Homo sapiens: one gene and its partner. The protein of the gene in region 1 purifies or fractionates together with the protein of each later gene. This does not show direct contact. Each region holds a gene or a part of one and is shown in the gene's direction. Other genes may lie near its edges. The genes, in order: PGLYRP1 and CNRIP1.

Region 1 (12,931 bases):
GCACACCCAGCCAGGCTGTGACAGTGCCTAGGCTCGGCCCCAACTTTGCTCTAAGATTGCAGTGGGTGCTGACAGCAGGGAGAAGCCAGGCAGCAGGAGGAGGCACTTCTAAGCCTGTGAGGGCAGGGAGTGCCTTCCCAGGCCCCTAAGAGTGCAGAGATGCCTGGGTCTGCAGCCATGGCTTGGGTGGCTGCAGCTATGCCTGGGGGGGTGGGGCTCTGGCCTCCATGCAGTGGGAGCCCCAGGTCTGCAGCCATGACTTGGGCAGCTACAGCTGTGCCCAGGAAGGTGGGGCTCCTGCCTGCTCCCAGCACCTCCAAGAGCACAGGGAGGCCACAACTTGGGCAGCCGCAGCTGCACCTGGGAGGGTGGGGTTTCTGCCTGCTCCATGGAGTGGAAGGCCTGGGTCCATAGCCATGACTTGGGTGGCTGCAGCTGCACCCGGGGAGCTCCTGCCCCACCAACTTGGAAGGGGCAGGGCTCCCACTTGTCCCCAGCTCCAACCGTCTAGTGGAGTGTACAGCCCCAACTGTGCCACCTGCCCCCCACTGCAGCCCACATGATGGCAGTGGCAGCTCCAGACGGGCCACTGCTGCCATCATTACTATGAGCATCTACATGAATAATGAATCACAGCTGCTAGTGGACTTAGAAGTTTCCATTAGCAGCTGTGATTGAATTTCCAGAGTTCACAGCCTTATAAAGAGATATCTTTAGTCTGCTGGTCTATAGTCTTCCAAGTGGCAGAACAGGTGGCTAAGACATTGTCAACAACTCCAGAGTCAGAAGACGTAACATGTCCAGCCTTTAGAAATATTGTATAAAGCAGGGGTTGGTAAACTATAACCCACAGACCAAATCTCACCTATGTGCACACACACACACACACACACACACACACACACACACACTATATGTGGCCTATTTTAAACAGCCAATGAGTTAATAATGGTTTTTACATTTATAAAACATTTTAAAGCACACATAGACACACAGACACACAGAGAGAGAAACGAATATGCAACAGAGATTATATGTGGTCCATAAAGCCTAAAATATTTACTACCTGGGGCTTATAGAAAAAGTTTGCCAATCCCTGGACTAAGGCAAGAGTAACAGTTTTCAATTCAGCCCATTTTAAACCAGTGCTTATCACCACAGTTGCTAATGGAGTGGGATGGCTGCTGTCACCTTGTGTTGGGGACCAGCCTCAACACCACCCGTAGGGTACCCAAAGTCCGGTGGCGACGAAGGAATGAGAAGAGACAGGTTAAGAGTGCATAAAGGGTGGGGTGCCAGGGGGCCAACTGCACTTTTGGAGGCTGCAAAAGGTGCCAAACTCTGGTCTCCACACTACTGAGTACAATCACTTAGATCTGAGAAGCAGATATTCAGGGGTGAAATGGTGAAAGGGGGGCGGTGTGTCATACACCTAATCTATAGCAATGGCGGTTTAGGTAAATTGTCTTTGTGCTGAAGCAGCATAAACTTAACTACTGATTTATTCTTTAACTCACTGGAGAGCAGCTGTGGGGAGTGGGCGTAACTAGGAGCCGGCATATCTGGCCACATTCCAATGCTTCAAAGGAGTGTCTTTCTCCTTGAGCACAGTGCTTGTAAATAAGAGAGCAGGTCACGCTCTGGCCATGGGAACGTGATGGCAATTAGAAGGCTTTCCTCATCAGAGGCCTCCTGTGGCTTTCCACAACTTATTGTCCCATATTTTTTACGGCCAGTTTATGCAGGCACCGCACAAGCCCTTTTCCCAACAACCTTGTCATCACCAGCACCTTTTCTTTTCTTCTTTTGTAATTACTTTTTGTGTTGAACTCTTACAGACTCACAGGAAATTGCATGGTACATACAGTCCCACGTAACATTCATCCAGTATTCCCACAGTGGGAACATCTTACATAACCATAGTATAATATCAAAACCAGGAAAGTGACATGGGTACATTACTGTTAACTAGATTACAGAGGACCTTATTCAGTATTCACCAGTTTCACATGCATTCCTGTGTGTGTGTGCACGCATGTGCATGTGTGTTTCTATGCAATCTGATCCATATAAATATTTGTATACCTACCACCACAATCAAGATAGAGACCCACAAAGGAATCCCCTTGTGTTACCACTATAGTGGCAGGCACACACACATATACATGCACATACACAAACACACTGTATCTGTCCCTTTGCAAATACCAATCTGTTCTCCATCTCTGTTGTGTTCTCATTGTAAGAATGTTATATAGGCTGGGCGCTGTGGCTCATACGTGTAATCACAGCACTTTGGGAGGCCAAGGCGGGTGGATCACCTGAGGTCAGGAGTTCAAGACCAGGTTGGCCAACATGGTGAAACCCCATCTCTACTAAAAATACAAAAATTAGCCAGGCGTGGTAGTGCACTCCTGTAATCCCAGCTACTTGGGAGGCTGAGGCAAGGAGAATTGCTTGAATCTGGGAGGCAGAGGTTGCAGTGAGAGTGAGCCAAGATTGTACCACTGCACTCCAGCCTGGGTGACACAGCAAGACTCCGTCTAAAAAAAAAAGTTATATAATTGGAATTGTACAGTATGAAATCTTTTGAGATTGACTTTTTTTCACTTAGCATAATGCCCTTGAGATTTATCCAGATTATTGCATGTATCAATAGTAGTTCTTTTTTACTTTTATTTCTTAACCCAGTAATATTCCTGTCTTAGTCCATTTTTTGTTGCTTATAACAGAATACCTGAAACTGGGTAATTTATAAAGAAACAAAATTTGTTTCTTACAGTTCTGAGGCTGAAACTGTGGGGTCCTTCTGTTGACAGCCTTCTGGCTAGTGGGGACTCTACAGGGTGTTGAGGCAGCATGGGGCATCCCATGGCGAGGGGGCTGAGGATGCTAGCTAAAGTCTCTCTTCCTCTTCTTATAAAGCCACCAGTCCTACTACCATGATAACCCATTCATCTATTAACTCATTAATTCATGAATGTATTAATTCATTTATGAAAACAGAACTCTCACGACCCAATCACTTTTTTTTTTTTTTTTTTTTTTGAGGCACAGTTTTGCTCTTGTTGCCCAGGCTGGAGTGCAATGGTTCAATCTCGGCTCATTGCAACCTCCACCTCCCGGGTTCAAGTGATTCTCCTGCCTCAGCCTCCCGAGTAGCTGGGATTACGGGCGCCCACCACCACAGCCAGCTAATTTTTTGTACTTTTAGTAGAGACAGGGTTTCATCATGTTGGCCATGCTGGTCTCGAACTCCTGACCTCGGGTGATCCACCCGCCTCGGCCTTCCAAAGAGCTGGGATTATAGGCGTGAGCCACCATGCCCAGCCCATTTTTTTAAAGGAAAGGAAAAAAGAAGAAAAATGAAATGCCCTGTGACTTTGGACATCAGCATAAAACTCAGTAACTCTGCTCTTGGTCTCTACATTATGGTTGCTATTACTGTTCGTAGGAGCCCGCTACTCCCTGGGAGAGGCAGGCCCTCAGGAAAATCACAGAACAGGATCCCTGTTCCGCTAAAGGGCTGCCCTGTGACTGACAGGTGCGGGAGAAAAAGTGCGCGAAAGAGGACAAACGGGGAGGGCGCGCCCTCTGGTGGCTGAAGGAGGGAACCGCGTAGCATCTTTTTTCCAGCGCCAAGAACAAGCTGAGGATGCGACCTGGGAGCCTGTTTCCCTGACCCGCAGCAGGCCAATCGGGTCATCCACGTGAAATATCGTATATCTGGCTTTTAAAAATAGTTATTAGATGTTTGTTAATTTGCTTCCTGTCTTCCCCACTAGAATGTGGGTACAGGAAGTCCTGGGGGTTTTGTTGTTGTTTTGTTTTGTTTTGTTTTAGACAGGGTCTGGCTCTGTTGCCCAGGCTGGAGTGCAGTAGCGCAATCTCAGCTCACTACAACCTCTGCCTCCCGGGCTCAAGCGATTCTCCTGCCTCAGCCTCCCAAGTAGCTGGGATTACAGGCGCCCGCCACCACGCCTGGCTAATTTTTGTATTTTTAGGGGAGACAGGGTTTCATCATGTTGGCCAGGCTGATCTCGAACTCCTGATCTCAAGTGATTTGCCCACCTTGGCCTTCCAAAGTGCTGGGATTACAGGTGTGAGCCACCATGCCCGGCCAAGGAGGAGTTTTTTAACTGACTTAATTGTAACAGATTAAATCAGGGCAGCTAGTGAGTCTGATATTTAAAACTTCAATTTTCTAAAACATATAGGGAATAAATCTAATTTCCCCCTATCCAAAAAAAAAAAAAGTGCACAAGTAATACAGTCTCTCAGGATTAAAGGCAACATAATAATCACTCATTGAAGTTGCAGTAAACGCTCACAAGGCATGTTTCAATTTTAGGCCAACAAGATACACAATAGGCCCAGTGCAGTGTCTCATGTCCATAATCTCACCATTTTTGGAGGCCGAGGCAGGAGGATCCCTTGAGCCCAGGAGTTCGAGTCTGCAGTGAGCTATGATGGTGCCACTGCCCTCCAGCCTGGGTGACAAAGCAAGACTCTGTCTCTAAAATGAAATTTAAAATAAAAATAAATTTAGAGAGTGAGGTGGGAGCCAGAATTTGAGGGCTGAGGAAGGAAGTCGAGGAGCCAGGCAGGCCAGGTCTTACCTCAGCTTCTTTCCTCGAGGTCACCGAGGTGCCGGGCAGAACCAGCTCACAGGGACAGGGTACACAGCTACGCACAAAACTTATGGACTATACGAGCCGCTCCATCATCCACAATGCAAAAGGCCCTGTGCCACAAGGATAGCAAGCTCACCCTGTTGGAGTCAGAGTGAGAAGCTCAGGGGCTACCCTGAACTTGACAGCTGGATCCTGGGTGTTCGGCTTGACCACCTGGTCCATGGAGATGATCTTCAACTTTATTTAAAGTGTTTGTATTGTATGTAAAAATAAGTAAGTAAATATGGCTCACACCTGTATGTAAAAATAAGTAAATATGGCTCACACCTGTATGTAAAAATAAGTAAGTAAATATGGCTCACACCTGTATGTAAAAATAAGTAAATATGGCTCACACCTGTATGTAAAAATAAGTAAGTAAATATGGCTCACACCTGTATGTAAAAATAAGTAAGTAAATATGGCTCACACCTTTAATCCCAGCATTTTGGGAGGCCGAGGCAGGCAGATCACCTGAGGTCAGGAGTTCAAGACCAGCCTGGCCAACATAGTGAAACCCCCATCTCTACTAAAAAAAAAAAAAAAAAAAATACAAAAACTAACTGAGCATGGTGGTGGGCACCTGTCATCCCAGCTACTAGGGAAGCTGAGGCAAAAGAATTGCTTGAACCCAAGAGGCGGAGGTTGTGGTGAGCCAAGATTGTGCCACTGCACTCCAGCCTGGGCAACAGAGTGAAACTGTCTCAAAAAATAAATAAGTAAATACATTTTTTTAAAGATACAGACTAAATAAAACTCTCACAATGGAAGGCTTCACTCCAGCTGGCTAATGTTTATATTCTTAGTGTCTTTAAGGGATCTGTGCCTCAAATGAAAGAACAGGCAAAAGAAAGGGAAAAAAGAAAATAAAAATTAAAAAAAGGAATGTGATGTGTAAATAGTCCTGTCTTTTTACAAAAGGCTGGCTTGGTGTTTTGTTGTCTTAAAGCTAAGGTACAAAGTTCCTGAATTCGTTCCAGGTTCCTCTATTTAAAACTTATACCTGGTGTGTCTGAAGTCCCCAAGGGAACAGGGTAGTCAAAGCATGTTCAAGGGCAGCAAGAAGGGGACAGTGGCTGCAGGAGTCAGAAAGAGGCTTTTGGGAGTAAGCAAGGTGAGGCTGGGATGGGGGCAGCCCATACTGTAGGCAGCCCATGCTGTTGGCCATGGGGAGGAGCTTGGGCCTCATTCTAGGAATCAAGAGATGCCAATGAAAAATGTGACTCATTTTTGAGGGTGACTTTAGAAAAGATCTGAGCAGAGCTTTGGCTTCACAGAGGCCAGAGTGCATCCTGGGAGGTCACTGAAGAGGCAGGGCAAAATCCAGGTGAAAGGAGGTGGTGTCTGGACCAGGGTGCAGAGAATGGAATTAGATAGAAGAGTTCTAATTCATCACAGTGGCATTCCTTGGTGGTGGGTTGCATATCCATTCAATCAAGTAGCTATTTAGTGAGCACCTACCATGTGCTGGGCATTCTTTTGGGTACTGGGTACAACAGAGGAAGGAACAGGAATTAGTCAAGGATGGTGCTCAAATGTATGGCTTTTGTAATGGGAAGATGGTGATACCATTTCCTTAGACAGGAACTCCTGTGAGAGTGCTGATGGGGAGGAGAAGGTCATGAGTCATTTTGCATTGGAGGTGCCTGTGGGACATCCAAGTGGAGGCGTCAAGTGGCCAGGTGGATACACAGATCCAGAACTCAACTGAGAGCTCCAGACTAGACATTGAAATACAGGAATCCTCTGCATTTTGACTGTGGCTGAAGCCATTATGTGGATAAGATCACTCAGCACAAAATATATGGTTTGAGGGTCCAGGAGGGAAGAATTGCTCTGAAAAAAAGAGAGAGAGAAAAAAAGACCAGCCAGAGAAGCAGAAGGAAAATCAAGGCAGTCTTACATCACAAAAGCTAAGGGAAATAAGTATTTTGAGAAGGAGGAAGTGGTCGACTGTGTCAATTGCTATCCAATTTCCCAAGATCATGTAGCTAATAAGGGGCAGAATGGAAATTTAAAACCAGGTCTACCTATATAATAAACAGAACCTGGGCAAACGGCTAGGCATCTGGAAACAAGATCAGACCCCTACCTCACACCACATGCAAGTATACATTTTAGCCGAGATAAAGATCTAAAAGTAAAACACAAAATAATCTTTTTTAAATAGAAAAAGTTTTACAATCTTAGTGTGAAAAGTCCCTCTTAAGGCAAGACAGGAAACACAGAAACCATAAAAGAAAAACCTAGATATTTTTTTAACAGATTAGAGGAAAGGGTTTACAGCACATTTGATAAGACATAGGGTTAATATCCCCCATATACAACTCAACAAGAAAATGATCAGAAGAGATGAACAGACAGTTTGAAGATGGATGCTGATAGCCATAAATATGTAAAAAGATAATCACCTCTCTAATGTTCAAGGAAATGCAAATAAAGCAATAATGAGATCTTGTTCTTTGGATTAGTAAAACATTTAAAAACTGATCATATTGTGGGAAAAATATATACTAAAATCTTTTTGGTATTGTATTTACCAATTCCTATTAAAATTTTAAGTGTAGCTCTACTTCTTAATCCAGGCACTGGATACACAGGTGGATTCACTTCGTGAACACTCATAAGCTCACTACTCTATTAAGTCTATCAACTCTATAAAAAATGTGTTTACACACTTTTTATATTACATTATTCTTTAATGCTTCTAAAAAAACTGAAATACACAAAATGTACACACCCAAGAAGTCAAAAATCCCAATTATGGGATTCTTTTGTTCATTTTGCAAATAATAACAAAAAGGCAAACAACCCAATTTTTTTTAATGGGCAATGGATATGAACAGGTAATTGACAAAAGAGCAAGCCCAAATATAGACAGCAAATACAGAAAAATACCCAGTCTCCTGAGTGGGTATAAAAATGCCAAAGGAGCTGTCACTTTATACTTATAAATTTAAGAAGTGATAACACTGGCCAGGCAAGGTGGCTCATGCCTGTAATCCCAGCACTTTGGGAGGCTGAGGTGGGTGGATCACCTGAGCTCAGGAGTTCGAGATCAGCTTGGCCAACATGGCGAAACCCCATCTCTACTACAAATACAAAAATTAGCCAGGTGTGGTGGCACATGCCTGTAATCCCAGCTACCTGGGAGGCTGAGGCAGGAGAATGGCTTGAACCCAGGAGGTGGAGGTTTACAGTGAGACAAGATCGTGCCACTGCATTCCAGCCTGAGTGACAGAGCGAGACTCTGACTCAAAAAAAAAAAAAAAAAAGTGATAACACCCACTTCTGGGGTCGGGGTGAGGAGGCTCCAAAACATTACTGGTGAAAAATATGAATTATTAATGGCTTTTTGGGGAAAATGATCTGGTAATATTAATTAAATATGTATACTCATTGACCTAATAACTCTGTGTTTATAATTTACTTATAAATGCACCAGTGCATAGGGATATATGTCTGAAAATATTTTGCGTAGTGTGGAGAAAATACTGGAAAACCTTCAAAAACTAAAAGATCCACAATGCTGAACTGATACTATAGCATATTGTGCAACTATTATAAAGAATAAATTAGAATTAGATGTACTGCCCTGGTGAGATGCCCATGAAATATTAGGTGACAAAAGGTAAATTGATGCACATGGTTTTGATTTTTTTTTTTAATGTCCTTATATAAGTTTGTAGGGAGGAGAATACGGTTTATAACTCTGCAGGCAGAAAGCCTGTAGCCAAACCCTGGCTTCATCACCTCCTGTATGTGATCATCCCCCCGGGCCTCAGTTCCGTCAACTGTAAGAGGGGTTAATAATAACATGGATCTGGCAAGCTTGTCGTTGAGTATATGATAATTTCTGAAAAGTGCTACAGATGCCTGGTGCACAATTCAGTAACAGCATGAGTACAATGTATATGAGAAGGCAGAACACAGAAGATGAAAACACACCACACAGGTCAGGCACGGTGGCTCATGCCTATAGTAATCCCAGCACTCTGGAACACTGGCAGGTGGCTCACCTGAGGTCAGGAGTTCGACACCAGCCAGGCCAACATGGCAAAACCCCGTCTCTACCAAAAATATAAAAATTAGCTGGGCGTGGTGGTGTGCACTTGTAATCCCAGCTACTCAGGAGGCTGAGGCAGGAGAATCACTTGAAGCCAGGAGGCGGAGGTTGCAGTGGCCCAAGATCGCACCATTGCACTCCAGCCTGGGTGACAAGAGCAAAACTCCATCTCAAAAAAAAAAAAAAAAAAAAAGGAAAATATTATTTATAAAATAGAAAATTAAAAAAAAAATTTTAAATACACATTTTTAAAAACCACTTGCAGGCTCTCACACACTGCATATCCAGGATTCACATGCAGGCAGCCTGGCTCTAGACGCGGGGCTCCAGTGCCTCCGGTGTCTCAGCCCGTGACTTCCCTGCTCTCAACCTCAGTTTACTCCACTGTGAAATGGACTTCCAGATACTCACCTCTTGAGTTTGCTGCAAGCGTAAATGGCATCAGGCTTGGACCTGGGGGAAGGAAGTGTTTTTAAAATGGGTAGCTTTGTTACCTCAGTCCTTGCGGGGAGAAGATGTGCCAATGCCCCGGGCCTCTGCGATGTAAGTTCCTGTTGAGTTGTTCAATGTTCCACTGAGAGGAGAGACAAGCAGGACCGGGATCCCGGCCCCGGGTCTTCCAGAAACGGCGGGGCGAAGCGCCCAGGGGCCTGTGCGTCCCTCCCTGCTGAGCGAGGGGGCCTGTCATTGCCGTGGGCGTGACCCAGACCCCAACCACAGTGCATCCCGCCCTGGCCCAGCCAGAGAAGGAAGCTGAGTCTGGGGTCTGCTGGGCCAGCAGGAAGTCCCAGCAGGGTGTGAAGCAAGACTTTCCGGGCCACTCCTGGAATCCCCCAGCAGATAAAGGCGGCCCCTCCACCGGGCGCTCCTAGCGGTCTCCCGGACCCTGCCGCCCTGCCACTATGTCCCGCCGCTCTATGCTGCTTGCCTGGGCTCTCCCCAGCCTCCTTCGACTCGGAGCGGCTCAGGAGACAGAAGACCCGGCCTGCTGCAGCCCCATAGTGCCCCGGAACGAGTGGAAGGCCCTGGCATCAGAGTGCGCCCAGCACCTGAGCCTGCCCTTACGCTATGTGGTGGTATCGCACACGGCGGGCAGCAGCTGCAACACCCCCGCCTCGTGCCAGCAGCAGGCCCGGAATGTGCAGCACTACCACATGAAGACACTGGGCTGGTGCGACGTGGGCTACAAGTGAGTGTGGCAGGGGGGCACGGGCTGGACTGGGGATCCCAGAGGCAAAGGTGTGCAAGTGCCCGCCAGCGGGACCATTTCTAGGCCTGGTGCTGAGGCCACCTGGCTGACACCCTGAGCAGCTTACTGAACCTCACAAGGTCATTTCTTCCTCGGGTCACCACGTGGGCCGGGGCAGGTGCTCACAGCACAAAGATGCGTGAGAAGGGGGGATGGGCTGAAATCCAAGCCCCGCTCCCGCTCCCGGGAAGAAGGGGCAGGCTTTGCCTAACACACACCAAGGTGTCCGCGACGCCTTATGAAGGCGCCCCTTCCTGATGCCTGGTGCCTTTGTTAGGAGGCGGAAAACCAGGCTGACTCAGTGCGGAGCTGGGTTCCAGGGTCAGCTCATCTTATTGCTGGCTGAGGCCTGGGGCGGGTCCTCCCGGCTTCAGCTTCCTCCTCGGCAAAGTCAATGGAATCGCGGCCCATCTGCTCCTTATATGAGCCAATACAGGCAAAGCACCTAGGAACTGCCTGGCACACGGGGGCCCGCAAAGCCACGGGCTATTACCATTAGGCACCTACTATGTGCCAGGCAGTGTGCCAGATGTGGCATGGAGAACGGTGCCACTCTAGCCTCCTGGGGTTGAAAGACCAGCAGGGAGAAACAAGCCAAGGCCACAGGTGAATTCAGACGGTGATAGAGGCGATGGATAAAAGGAAAGAGGTGAGGGAGGGTGACCTCAGGCTGGGACCAGACCCACACAGGCTCCTTGGAAGGGTGGGGCAAGGGAAAGCCTCCCTGAGAGTGGCTGCCTTGGCTCTGGGATGGGGGAGCAGACAGAGGCCTGCAGGTGGCAGGGGGTGCTGGGGGCAAAGCCAACGGGGTTGAGTGGGCGGGTCCTGTGGGAAGGACAGGGTGGCTGAACACAGCCGGGCGAGCGGAATGAAATGAGGAAAGGGCAGGACCAGGCAGGGCTTTGTGGACCACAGTGAGGACTGTAGCTTTTACTCCGAGATGGGAGCCATGGGAGGCTTCCCCCCGCAGAGCAGGGACCAGGGCTAGTGTAGGTACAAGAGACTCCCTCTGGCTGCTGTGGGGAGAACAGACTGTAAGGGGTGCCGGCTGAAGCAGGCTGAAGCAGGTCCGGGGCCACGCCTACCAGCTACCTCCTCCTTAGAATGGGCTGCAGTCCAGCCTGACGGTTTCCACAGGGAGGGAACTTTCAATCCTGCAGGCTCTCAGACCCAGGTAAGCATCAGAATCTCCTGCAGAGCTTATTGGAGGAACATGCAGGTCCCCAGAGACCACTTCAATAGACCCCACCCAGGGGACACATGTTCTCAGGACCTCCTAAGGCTGTGTCTCACACACACACACACACAAAACCCACCCAGAGAAGTCTAGAAGTGTCCAAAGGTATTCCCAGCCCTTCCAGTTCAAGATTTTATCAAAGACTCCAACTTCAACATTTTGTTTCCAAGACTCAGGCGCTCTGATCCTAAGTGTTCCCATGAGGTCACGAAGGCCCGAGCCTCGGGTCCACATCACCACATACAGAAGCAGCCGCTGTCTGGCCCTCAGCTTTTAGGATTCCGAATCTGGTTCTAACGTTCTGAATCCCCTTTCCATGTCACGTCACCTTCTCTCTCTGAGCCTCGTTTCTTCACCTGTAAATGGGGCTTCTGACTGTACCCGCTTGGCGATGGTGGCTGAGGTTTCAATGAGATGCATTCATGCAACAAATGACCAGGGAGAACCAACCACCCCCGACCCCAGCACCATCATGCCAGGCTCCGGGAATATGGCAGGGCCATAACCAGCCAGTCCCAGCAGCCAGCATCACCAGCAGGGCCATAACCAGCCAGTCCCAGCAGCCAGCATCACTGGGGCCAGATTCTGGGAGCTGGCTTCCTAAGCAGCAGATTCGGGACTCAAGATTCGGAAGTTCCGACATTCTGTGCGTCATTAATGACACTGTGAGCGCGGGGGCTGAGTTGGCACATACTGCAGCTCCAAGGCACTGATCTTCTAGTTCATTCCCATTTGCCAAGTCAGACACGCTCAATCAGATGTGCTGAATGAATCAGCCTTAAGGATCTGCTGCCAGGCTTGGGAACCTCAAAGAGGCAGGTGCTGGGGCTCCAGGGTCGGTATCTGGTTACGACCCCAACTTTGAGTCTGTGATCCTGTCCCCCAGTGGACCCCGAGGGCAGGAAGCAAGCTGGGGCAAAGGCAGAGTTCTGAGAGGCAGGGGGCTCTGAGTAGCTTGTACAAATTATGTCGCTTTCTGAGTCTCTGCTCTCTCTGCTTAAGATGAGGATGATAAGAGTCCCTGCCTTGGCTGGGCACGGTGACTCATGCTTGTAATCCCAGCACTTTGGGAGGCCAAAGGCGGGCAGATCACCTGAGGTCGGGAGTTCGAGACCAGCCTGGCCAACATGGTGAAACCCCATCTCTACTAATAATACAAAAATTAGCCGGGTGTGGTGGCTCATGCTTGTAATCCCAGGTACTCAGGAGGCTGAGGCACGAGAATCACTTGAACCCAGGAGGCAGAGGTTGCGGTGAGCTGAGATCACGCCACTGCACTCCAGCCTGAGCAACAAGAGTGAAACCCCGTCTTAAAAAAAAAAAAAAAAAAAAGTCTCTGCCTCAGAGGGCTGTCCTGCAAGGATTCAGTAAAACAGGACTTCCACAAATCCTCTAGGGAGGCAGGAGAGAGCAACGCACAAGATCACATGGGTGGGGACCATGGAGGCCTGGTTAAAAACCCCAGCTGTGCCCCAGACAGGCTGTGTGACCCCGGGGCAGGTGATTCTACCGCTCTGATTCTGTCTATATAAAACGGGGGTGATAGTGACTCACAGGGTTGCTGTGAGGATGGAAAAAGGTGTATGCAGAGCTGTGCTTGGCACATGGCAGGGGCCCAATAAATGACCACAGTCATTGTTACTATCGTGGGAAATTAACGGGTGAGAAGGATGCTGGGGAAGTTGTGTGCACCACGGCAGTAACGG
Region 2 (12,112 bases), on another chromosome or scaffold:
GAACAATTAGAAAAATGGGGGGAGGGGCACATGGTAAGCAACCTGAATCATTGTCACTTGCGTTTAACAGAGTAAAAAAAAAAGAAAAAGAAAGAAAAAGAAAAAAAAGAAAGAAAGAAAGAAGGAAAGAAAACGTTATGGAAAATTGTTTTTCTTGGAAGAGAAAAAGATGTAATGGATTGGATCCATCACAGGAGACTCGGGAAATGGCCCTTGTTTGGTTTGATCTGCACTAAACAAAAAATATTTGCAGCCTTAAGAATAGAAGACAATTTTGGCCGCATGCAGTGGCTCACTCCTGTAATCCCAGCACTTTGGTAGGCCGAGGCGGGCGGATCACGAGGTCAGGAGATCGAGACCATCCTGGCTAAAACAGTGAAACCCCGTCTCTACTAAAAATACAAAAAATTAGCTGGGCGTTGTGGCGGGCGCCTGTAGTCCCAGCTACTTGGGAGGCTGAGGCAGGAGAATGGCGTGAACCCGGGAGGCGGAGCTTGCAGTGAGCCAAGATTGCACCACTGCACTCCAGCCTGGGCGACAGAGTGAGACTCCGTCTCAAAAAAAAAAAAAAAAAAAAAAAAAGAATAGAAGATAACTTTAATGTGTTATTTTGCTCAATAACCATATTCACACAATATCATTAGTTTTTCAGAGAACACACTGGAGAAAATGGCAATGACCAGTGGCATAGGTCCAATGCATGGAAACCTTGTTTGCAAAGACTGAAAAATGACAGCTTTGTGAGTTTGCTCAGTGTGAAGATGGGAAATGATGGTGTTTGGAAAGCAGAGAGCAAAAACAAAATTGAGCTCAATATCACAGACTATGACTGGAAAATACAGAACTCTGAAAAGACAGTTTGTTCATTGATACACTCATATGCCATGGACCTCGCTGTATTATTTGAAAACCAAAGAAGACTTTGCTATTTTTTGATTTAACAATTTGTGTAACATTTTGTGTTCCTAAAAGTAGCTGTATCATTTTTACCTTTGAAAGAAATCTATACAGGGAAAATATGCCCTAAAAATTAAGTATATTATAAATATTATATAAATTTTGTACTGGATTTTTTACTAATTCCATTTTTACCTCAGATTTGGATTATCCATGCTGCCTTATCTTCTCCCAGCCCTCCATGACCCCCAACATTTCGATTAATTGAAAGTTGCCCATACCATGATTGCTGTAGGACTTCAAAGGAAGTGAGTGTTTGTGGGGGCTGGACTAGTCGGTTATAGCTTCAAGGAAAAGGAAGAACTTGACTCGGGCCTTGATGAAGGAGAAGAATGACAATCTTGAATAATTAATGTATCTGTACATTCATTGAACCAATATAAGCACCCCTATACAGTGGGGTCAGTTCTAAGTACTGGGAATATAGTTATAAACAGAATATAATCTCTGCCCTAAAGGTATTTATACACTGGGGTTGCAGAGGACAGTGGGGGTACAATATACAAGTAGGCAAGTTTCTTTTGTAATTACAGTTGGTGACAAGTGCTCTGAAGAAAAATACAGTGAGTGAGGACCTGGAGTATGATACAGGCGGGGAAATATTCACAACAGACTGTAAGGGGAAAGAGTGGGAGTGGGATGGACATCAGGATGCCATGTGCAGTGTTCTGCATGGGGGTGATAGCAGCCTGTACCGCAGTGGTAACAGTAGGAATGGTGAGAGGTGCCTGGAAACAGCTTGCTTGTGAAGAACTGATAGGACTTCCTGATAGATTTGATGCAAAGGGTTAAAAAGACAGGGATCAAGAATAAACCAATTTTTTTTTACCGGAGCAACTGAGTAAACTATGATGCCTCTTACTGAGATAAGAAACCTTTGGTGGGGTGTGGTGGCTCATACCTGTAATCCCAGCACTTTGGGAGGCCAAGGCGAGTGGATCTCTTGAGGTCAGGAGTTCAAGACTATCCTGGCCAATATGGTGAAACCCCATCTCTACTAAAAATACAAAAATTAGCCATCATGGTGGCAGGTGCCCGTAATCCCAGCTACTCAGGAGGCTGAGGCAGGCAGATCACTTGAACCTGAGAGGCAGAGATTGCAGTGAGCCAAGATCACGCCACTGCACTCCAGCCTAGGTGACAGAATGAGTGAGACACTGTCTCCAGAAAAAAAAAAAAAAAAAAAAAAGTAACCCTCAGGGAGAATGAATTTGAGGTTAAAAAAATTGAGAATTCACTTTTAGCCATGTTATGCTTGGGACACCTGTTAACCTATCAGACACGCATGTAGAGATATTCTGTCAGGAGTTGGTTATGTGAATCTGGAACTTAGACAAATGTTTGAACCTGGAGATATAAAATTAGAAGTATCGGTGTGGTAGAAATAATACAGATATTTCCACCTAATGTAAGGAGGTTTGTGTTCTTTTTCAATGGAACTCTAGCCAGCCTCACAAAAGGAGTCAAGAACAGGAAAAGTAGAAAACTATCTTCATGGAATCTAGTTTTAATTGAGTATTTACTTTCATTTGTGGAGAAAAAGTGAGTGGAGCTGTCCTGGTTGTTCAGGAAAGATAACATTTATGTAGGGAAACAGCAAAAGTATTATTTGGAACATAAAGTGCTATGCTAAATTGGCCCAGAACAAAATACGAAACTGACATTATGATCGCCATCACCTGACCAAGGTGCATGTGACTGTATAAGGAGGTAACCAGATCCCCTAAGAGCCTAGCAGACAAATGAGGTCTACTGCTTATTGCCATGGCTACAAAATCCTTTGGGTCTAAGGGAGGACCTAGGTTCTTCAGAATTGGTCCAGGAGGATGGCTTTGTCTTTATGTCTGTTAAATCTAGCCAGAAAGAAAGCCCTGATATAAATGTAAAGTGTACCTGGCTGGGCACTGTGACCCACATCTGCAATCCCAACACTTTGGGAGGCTGAGGCAGGTGGATCACTTGAGGTCAGGAGTTCAAGACCAGCCTGACCAATATAGTGAAACCCTGTCTCTGCTTTAAAACATACAAAAAAAATTAGCTGGGCATGGTGGCACGTATCTATAATCCCAGCTACTCAGAAGGCTGAGGCATAAGAATTGCTTGAACCTGGGAGGCAGAGGTTGCAGTGAGCTGTGATTGCACCACTGCTCTCCAACATGGGTGACAGAGCTAGACTCCATCTCAAAAATAAAAGTAAAATAAAATAAAATAAAATGTAAAATGTACCAGTTAAGATCTCTAATGCTAAGACATTCTGAGGTAGGCAAAGGGAAGGAGTCAAGCACCTCATAAATCATTGACACTAATTTAAGAATAAAAATAAGAAATAACTCCTGCAGATGTTAAACTGTACCTGAATGCAAACATGAATACAAAGGAAAATACATTGTTAAATGTGCTGGTATTATATTGTGTATATGTGTTTGTGTGTGTGTATAACCCAAGCCCAGGACACATTATGACACATGACATAATTGAGTGTATACATATGTATGTGTATAACCCAGTCCCAGCACTCTTAACTACGTTATTTTCATATACATGCACACAACTATGTCCTGTGTCATAATTCTAACTGTTTTTGAACTCTATATTATGAATTCAGCAGAGACTGGAACAGCGAATATGGAACGGTTGTTAGCACAATGTCTTAGTCTGTTCATGCTGTTATAACAAAATATCTTAGCCTGGATAATTTATAAACAACAGAAATTTATTGCTTACGATTCTGGAGGCTTGGAAGTCTAAGGTCAAGGCACCAGCAAATTTGGTATCTGGTGAGGGTTCACTGTTTGCTTTATAGATGGCAAATTCCCGCTGCATCCATACATGGTAGAAGGGGGCAAACGACCTCCCTCAAGCCCCTTTTACAAGGGTACTACTAATCCCATTCACGTGGGCAGAAGAGCCCTTATGACCTAATCACCTCCAAAAGAACCCACTTCTTAATACTATTGCTTTGTGGATTCGGTTTCAACATAGCCATTTTGGGGGAACACAAGCAGCTGGGAGGCTGAGGCAGGAGAATCGTTTGAACCATAGCATGTGATTCCTCTGAATGACAACTAAGTCCATCGTTCACTTGGGCTCAATTTCACAGTTTTCAAAAGAATGATAATAAGCATTGTCCATTAGACAGACAATGTTTAAGATCACCAATCTGAGGTAATAATTAAAGAATCTACAATAAGACTGAAAGCACTAGATACCTTAAAAATATATAGCAAGAAATGAATTAATGCAGGAAAAAAAAGCCAAATACCGCATGTTCTCATTTTTAGTGGGTGCTAACCATTGGGTACCCATGGACATAAAACAGTTTTTCAACCCTTACTTGTCTCCCTCCCTCCCTGGCTAGTAGTCTTCATTCCATTGGTAACAATAGACACTGAGGACTTGGATGATGGGATCATTTCTACTCCAAACCTCAGCATCATGCAATACGCTCCAGTAACAAACCTGAATCTAAACTAAAAGTTGCTACATATTCAGCAAGTATATTTTTAAATAAAAATAGTTACAATGTATTGAGTGTCTCTATGGGCCTGATATTCTTGCATAGTTTACACAATTTCATTTGGTTCTATATGCATCATCTATGTCACCATCATCATTTTACAAATGAAGAAACTGGGGCTCCAAGAGACTAAAGCAGCTTTGCTCAAGGTCACTCAGTTTGTAATCCACAGATCTGGCAACACAAACACAGATCCATCAGACTCCATATTCATATTCTTTGCACATATGTATCAGTGATGATAAATTTTCCAATTACTTTTACATTTATTAATTTCATTTTAAGACATTACATTGTATGGTCCTGAAAATGCTATTCCTAATGGATATTGCCCAGCATTAGTAACACCTCGTATTTGAAAAGTAATTTATTTTTTTCAAACAATTTCCATTTCCTCATTCAATTCTCACAATGTTGGGAAGGAGGTATTTTAATCCTCATTTTACAAAGATGAAACATAAAGATGTTAAGTTATTTGCATAACGAAACTAAAAAGTGGCAGAGTTAGGTTTTTTTTATTTTATTTATTTATGAGATGGCAGTCTTACTATTTTGTCCATACTGGCCTCAAACTCGTCGGCTTAAGTGATCTTCCCACCTTAGCCTCCCAAGTAGTGGGGACTGCAAGAGTGCACTACCTAGCCAGGCTAGAACCAGAGTTTTTGTTTTTGTTTTTGTGTGGGTTTTTTTTTTTTTTTTCAGATGGAGTCTCACTTTGTTGCCCAGACTGGAGTGCAGTGGCATGATCTCGGCTCACTATAAGCTCTGCCTCCCCAGCTCAAGCGATTCTCATGCCTCAGCCTCCCAAGTAGCTGGGACTACAGGCATGCGCCACCACGCCTGGCTAATTTTTTGTATTTTTAGTAGAGACAGGTTTTGCCATTTTGGCGAGGCTGGTCTTGAACTCCTGGCCTCAAATGATCTGCCCTCCTTGGTCTCCCAAAGTGCTGGGATTCCAGGCATGAGCCACCATGCCGGCCTTAGAACCAGGTTTTAAAATGGAGTCATCATCCTCCAGGTCCAATGCTCTTTTTGATACACAGGTGGAAGTTGGCTTGAGATTGTGGGGTTGCTAAACAAAAGGTTGAGGAAAAAAGGCAAAATTTCCAAAAAGGCTTTTAAATGACCCCAAAAAGATACTCACCCTCTTTCCACTACTCATAAACCATAATAACCAACATTAAGTTTACTGTGTAACTCTCTCATTCTTTTAAAAGAGCTAATACAAACATACACATTTATATTCTTTTTAAATTTTCATTTTTCTAAAACACTAGAGATGCTACTTGCAATTAGATTTCTTTTCATCATTCCAGGTAAATCGCAAGGATCTAATTAATTTTAAAGATGTGAAAGAATTTACATATGGACATGATTAAGACCACAACCGTAAGTCAATTCAACAACGATTTCTGGAGCACCTACTATGTGTCAGGCACTATTTTGGCATGCTGGGGAAACAGCAACAAACAAAACAGACAAAATGCTCGCCCTCAGGCTTTGTTTCCCAGCCATCCCACTTTTATCATTAACAGTTTTTGCCTGTGTGTTTGCCAATGCAACCTATATTTCATTATTTTGATAGTTGTGTAACGTTCTATAGTGTGGGTATATAAGAATTTATTCAGCCATTTATTTATTGGTTAACATTTCATTTAGGTTTTATTTTTATTTTTGCAACCAATGTTGCAATAAACACCCATATTACATATATATTATATGTATAGCTTATTATTTCTTAAAAAAGAGCAGTCTAACTTGGGTAAACAAAAACTGCCAAGGAAACGCATCCCTACCCATTTGTTCTCACTAGCCCACTTCATTTCCCAGGTGTGCTCCCTGGCTCTGGTACTATCCATCTGGGTGGTGCTGAAGCAGGTGCTCTCTCTGCTCCGGGAAGCCATTCCCAGTATAGTCCTCACCCCCTGAGTCTCCCCTCGCTTCCAAAAGTCAGCTGTCTACCGACCTCTGCCACGAAAACTGTCTAATCACGCTTAATATGCAAATCTAAACTCTGCGGTGTCGCATATGGCCCCCTGCCAATAATCCTTTGACCCATCCCACCTCTTGGCCATTTTGTCACCAGAATGCCTTAGGCTCATGTCAGTTGCCTTTTACAGGGTTAATAGCTCACCCTTCAAAATCTGTGTAAATATATGTGATTCATTACATATATTTATGTATGTGTCATTTTTGGGACGAGCATACGTATAATGGAAATGTACACCCACAAGAAGATGTAGCTCCTTGAATATGGTTATTTTCTTCCTCTTGCATCCATTCCTCATCCAGCGTGGCTCCATCACGTGGAATTGCGCCTTTCCTCGGCCATTTCCCCTAAGCTTTGGAAAGACTCATATTTCCTGAAATTTAAATCACCGGCTAGCGGTTTCCTGTCCCCCCTTCCCGCCTCCCTTTACCCCCCCTCAGCCTCCTCCCGCCTGGCTGGCGCCGGATCCGCGAGCAGCAGTGTCCACCTCACGTAGCTGGCCGAGGCGGTATCCAGATTCCGGGGGTCTCGCTCCTTGGCATAGTGGTCGCTTAACTCCAGCGCCTTCCCAGTGCCTCCCAAACCTCTCCTCCTCCTGCCCGGGGCTGTTCTAGGAGGAGCCTAAATGTCCGCTTCCCCAGCTGAAGGGGATTGTGGTGCGTAAACAGGATTAACTCCCTCGCCCCCAGCTGCGCGGATCTGCGCGGCGGCCTGCGGGCCAGAGCGAGCCTTCGGGTGCGTGGAGGGCGCAGCACTGGAGCGGGGGATGGGGAAGCGCGCGGCCTTGGAGCCGTCTCTTGGGCCCGCTTCCTCGCCGAGTGGGGAGGGGGGCCACAGCCTAAGGAGCTGCTCCTCAAAAGCCCGGGCGGACGGCGGCGACGGCGCGGGTTCCTAGCGGCAGCCTCAGCTCCACCACCTCCCTCACCCTCCCCGCGCTTCCTCTCCGCCCCTCGCGCTCCAGCCACTCGGCCGCAGCCGGCGCTGTCCTCCGCCCCCCGGAGCCGCCGCGCCAGACCCTCGCCCAGACATGGGGGACCTGCCGGGCCTCGTGCGCCTCTCCATCGCGCTGCGCATCCAGCCTAATGACGGCCCGGTCTTTTACAAGGTGGACGGGCAGCGCTTCGGCCAGAACCGCACCATCAAGCTGCTCACCGGCTCCTCCTACAAGGTTGAGGTGAAGATTAAACCCAGCACGCTGCAGGTCGAGTGAGTGCGGGGCGCCTGGTGGCAGCAGGGTCCCCCATGGGGTACAGGCAGAGGACTGAGGCCCCCAGGACAGCCCGAGCCTCTCAAGGGCCTCTGGCCTCGCGCCGCTCCCAGCGGGCCCGGGGGTTGGAGGAAGAGGTCACTCCCTGTCCGCCTTCGTCCCCTTCCTTCCCTTTGGCTTGTATTCCTCCATTCTCGCTTCCCTCCACCCATCGCAGTGACCTCAGTGGGTTCTTTAAAATCAGTGACAAGAAGCCAGGGTTTTTGCTTGTCTGTTTCTTATAAATTTCTCCTGCCTTCTGTCCAGCCTTGGGCGCGGAACCGCAGGCGGTCGGGGTGGAGCAGATGGGAGAGGTCCGCAGGGTTCAGCCACCGCAATCCCAGCCCTCCTGCGCGCGGTCCAGGCGGCCCACAGGGTCTGCCCGCAAGGCTGAAGGAGGGAGAAAGGAGGAATGAGGTGGAAAGGCAGGGGAGGGGTGATTACTGGGGCTCCCTGAGGGATGCTCCCCACTCCCTTCGCCATTCAGTGGCTGGGACCCTGGGGTGGAGCAGCAGACACTAGTAAGAGAGCGGCCGCCCCTTCTCTGGCCTAGTTTCACGGTTTTCCATGCCGTATGCTGTTCTTTTTCTCCTGAGTTTTCTGTTCAGGCTGGTGATGGTGCCTGGGATTAGCAACATCCCCACAGCAAGAGGATGTTTTTTGGTTTATCCATGGCAGGGACGATTTCTTGCCAGCGACCGCTGGATAATGCACCCAGTAGACCTCTGGCGGGAAAGTGTGTGGGAGCATGCAGTAGCCTACCCGGAAGAACTGCGGGTGGAGCCCCTTTACCTCTCGTTTCTACCTACCAAAGTCTAGTCTGCAGAGAGAAAATAAACCAGCATTTATTGTATCTACTACATATGGTGGGCATTATTGCGGGGGTGGAAGGACTTTGAATTCATCAGATACTACTTATAGCTTACGTTTTAATTCAGTAAACTTGTATTAGCCTTCCAAGGTGCAAGGACCTAGAACCAAATCTGGATGGTTTCTGGTACTCCTGATTCATCTATTTGTCAGCATCCCCCACAGCTCCATGCACCCTTTATTCTCACATTTCCCAGTGTTCTGTGCACCTGGATATAATCCAGGCTTTTCCTTTCCCTTCTTTCCTGCCAACCTTATCCCCGGAGTTATCTGTTAATATATTTCTTTTTTTTTTTTTTAGAGTATTCCTCTAGTGTTCAAACTAATCTAAAAGTTAATTTGTTAGGAATAAAACTATTTTTTCTGGTTACATTTTAATGCTATCAAGGATTTCTCAACTCTAATCCTGTGGTTCTCAAACCTGAGTATATATCAGAATCACCTGGAGTGCTTGTTAAAACACAGATGCTGGAGCTCTCCCTAGAAGTTCTAGTTTAGTCTATGGTAGGGCCTAAGAATTTGTTTTCTAAGGTCTGCAGGTGATGCTGATACTGCTGGTCCAGGGACTTGGCTTTGAGAACCATTATCCTAACACAAAAGAATGATGCCAGTGAGAATTTCTGATGGTGTAGAAGGCTTGAGGTACTCCAAATCATAGGACCCCTGATTGTTGGAACAGGAGAAAAAAAATATTAGAGGACGAGTTCAGTATTCTCAATCCTACCTGCATATTAAGATCACCTAGATAACCTTAAAATAAATGTACCAGTGTCCAAACTACATCCCAGGCCAACTGAATCCTAATGTCTGGGGCTGGGGATAGGTAGGTTTTTAATTCATAAATAGGAGAAGCACTGCCCCCTGAACTTGCAGAACTTTCTCCCGCACCACAATGCCCCCCTTAGTGAAACCCTGTAAGTTTCCTGCCTAGAGTTTTGGTCCAAAACAGGACAGGGTGCCTAGGCTAATTTCAACCGTATGTGGTCAACTCAAGTCTATTGCAGGAATATTTCCATTGGTGGTGTGCTTGTCCCACTGGAACTGAAGTCTAAAGAGCCTGATGGGGACAGAGTTGTTTATACGGGTACATATGACACAGAAGGTGTGACCCCAACGAAGAGTGGAGAACGGCAACCCATCCAGATCACCATGCCGGTAAGGCTTGCTTGCGGGTATAGGAGTATGGTGCCATGGAAAATGGAAACCACAGAAAAGAAAACAATCACTATCTCTCTGTAAGAAAAGGTGTGTTGGGAGCCAATTACTGTGGAAATTGAGTTGTGGATTTCCTTCAAGCATCTGCTGGAGAGAGAACTACTTAATTAATGCTCTTTTGCATGACAGACTGACCCTGTAGATGCTGAAAAGACACCATAAGCAGAAGCAGATGGTTCTGGAAGAGACAGAACCTACATTGCCATTTTCCCAGTTATAGTCTACTTCAGAACTGGTTTAGATAATTGGCTGTGAAAAGTTTCTGATTCCAAGTAGGCCACAATATTCTGGTTAAGAGAAAGCTGATTTGAATGACACTTTGCTACTTAAAGCTAAATGGAGGAGCCAAAAAAAGTGTCATGGGAAAAATACACCTCTTATATAATATCCTATAATACACCTATTTTATATAATATATACCTATTATATATACACCTATATAATATATATATACCTATATTATATATACCTATTATATATAATATCTGGTAATCCTATCAGATATCATATATAATAAAATGATATACCCTGGTAATATGGCCCCAAGTAAGAAAAAACAAATTGGTAGAAAGGATAGAGTCAAGACATAGATTTAACTATATGTGCAAACATAATAAATAGGTGATGAAGCAAGCTTGCTAAAGCACAGGAAAAGGAAGCTTCACCTAAACTGCTGCTTGCAAACTGGGCAGCCTTTTCCCTCTGCAAGAACAACCTTCAACTGTCTGCCCTCTAGCTTTATAGGAAGTATCACAAGGGTTCTCAAATATCGGTATGCGTGAGAATCTCTTTGGGAGTTTGTTTAAAATTCCAGTCCTAGGTTCCCTCTCCAGTGATCTTAGCTCAGTAGAGCTAGGGTGGGGACAGAGAAACTCTTAGCAAGCATACCAGATCCTGAAGAGGATGGTGTGGGAATGCACTTTGAGAAATGCCTATCTAACCTTTGGAAACTTAAAGTGTTCCCAGTCCCCATTATACTTTTTAAAACCACAATAGTCACATAAGGAAATAATCTAGCAGCTCATCCCTTTGCATCCAATGTTTGAACTATTTTTAGAAAGTGCTCTTGTTCTGTCAAAGAACCTTCAACACAGAAAAATACAAAAATGAGGGAAATGTATAATTCCTGCAAGAGAGAAGTGTTGTTAACATGTCAATAAATGTTCTTAGAAAGTTGTTTCTATGTCTTTGAATATATATGTGTGAGCCTGGGCAACATAGTGGGACCCTGTCTCTAAAAAAATTTTTTTTAGTTAACCGGGTGTGGTGATACCACACCTGTAGTGCCAGCAACTTGGGAGGCTGAGGCAGGAGGATCACTTGGATCCAGGAGGTTGAGGCTGCAGTGAGCTATGATCACACCACTGCACTCCAGCCTCGGTGACAAGAGTAAGACCCTGTCATTAAATATATATATTTGAGTATCATTCCATATATATACTTTTTTCTACTTGTATACATCTTTCAATGTCAAATATATGCCCATATATATATATGGAATGTCATTTTAAAGTCTGTATGGGTATTGTATTTTATGAATGTATCAAATTATCCTCAGTCACTTATTGCTGATTATTTCTGGTTTTCGGTATTATAAACAAAACCACATTACAAATCACTGAGTACTGTACAATTGTCTAATGTTTTCTTGATTTCTAGAAGAAATGTGCACGTTAAGGCATTTTATAAGACTGCCTCACTGACCTCCAGAAAAGCTAGGCAATTTACACGCCTATCATCTGTATTTAAGTATCCATTTCTCTCTGCACTAGGTATAGTTTGTCATGTTTACATATTTTTAATCTGACTGAAATACTTCAATTTTTACTTACTGTTAATTTGAAATCCTGACATATTCATTTACTATTTGTATTTGCTTCATGGATTATATGTTCATAGTTTTCACCCATTTTTCTGCTTAAGTGTATCTTATTGATTTTTTGAAAAATCTTTATAAATTTAAAATCGTCATTTTTATCACATCTTGAGTGTTCATTTAATATTTTAATTTTTATTTTGTTTACAATATAAAATATAAATTTTGTAGTCAAACATGTTAGCCTTTTCCTTTATTATTTTGCAGTTAAGATCCAGCTTAGAAAGTCTTCCTTGACTCCCAGATTAATTAATTATATATAGACATATACACAGTGGCATTTGTGTATTTTCATCTGAACTCTTATGGTCTCATTTGTTAAATTTTAGATGAATTACAGATTTAGATATTATTTCAGTTCTTACTTTTATATTGGAAAGTATTTGCCCACAGTGTCCTAATACAATTATTTAAATAATCTATGCTTCTCCAAAGGTCAGT

What was found.
Region 2: the proteins of PGLYRP1 (region 1) and CNRIP1 purify together in Homo sapiens (affinity purification with mass spectrometry; 3 studies listed by BioGRID and IntAct, with this or other methods). This does not show direct contact.

Annotation. Positions count from the first base shown.
Region 1 is NC_000019.10:46,019,732-46,032,662, reverse strand, and holds the start of PGLYRP1 (peptidoglycan recognition protein 1 precursor), read left to right. Parts: upstream 1-9,609; 5' UTR 9,610-9,641; coding exon 9,642-9,928; intron 9,929-12,931.
Region 2 is NC_000002.12:68,314,780-68,326,891, reverse strand, and holds the start of CNRIP1 (CB1 cannabinoid receptor-interacting protein 1), read left to right. Parts: upstream 1-6,942; 5' UTR 6,943-7,491; coding exon 7,492-7,670; intron 7,671-9,574; exon of another isoform or gene 9,575-9,584; coding exon 9,585-9,735; intron 9,736-12,112.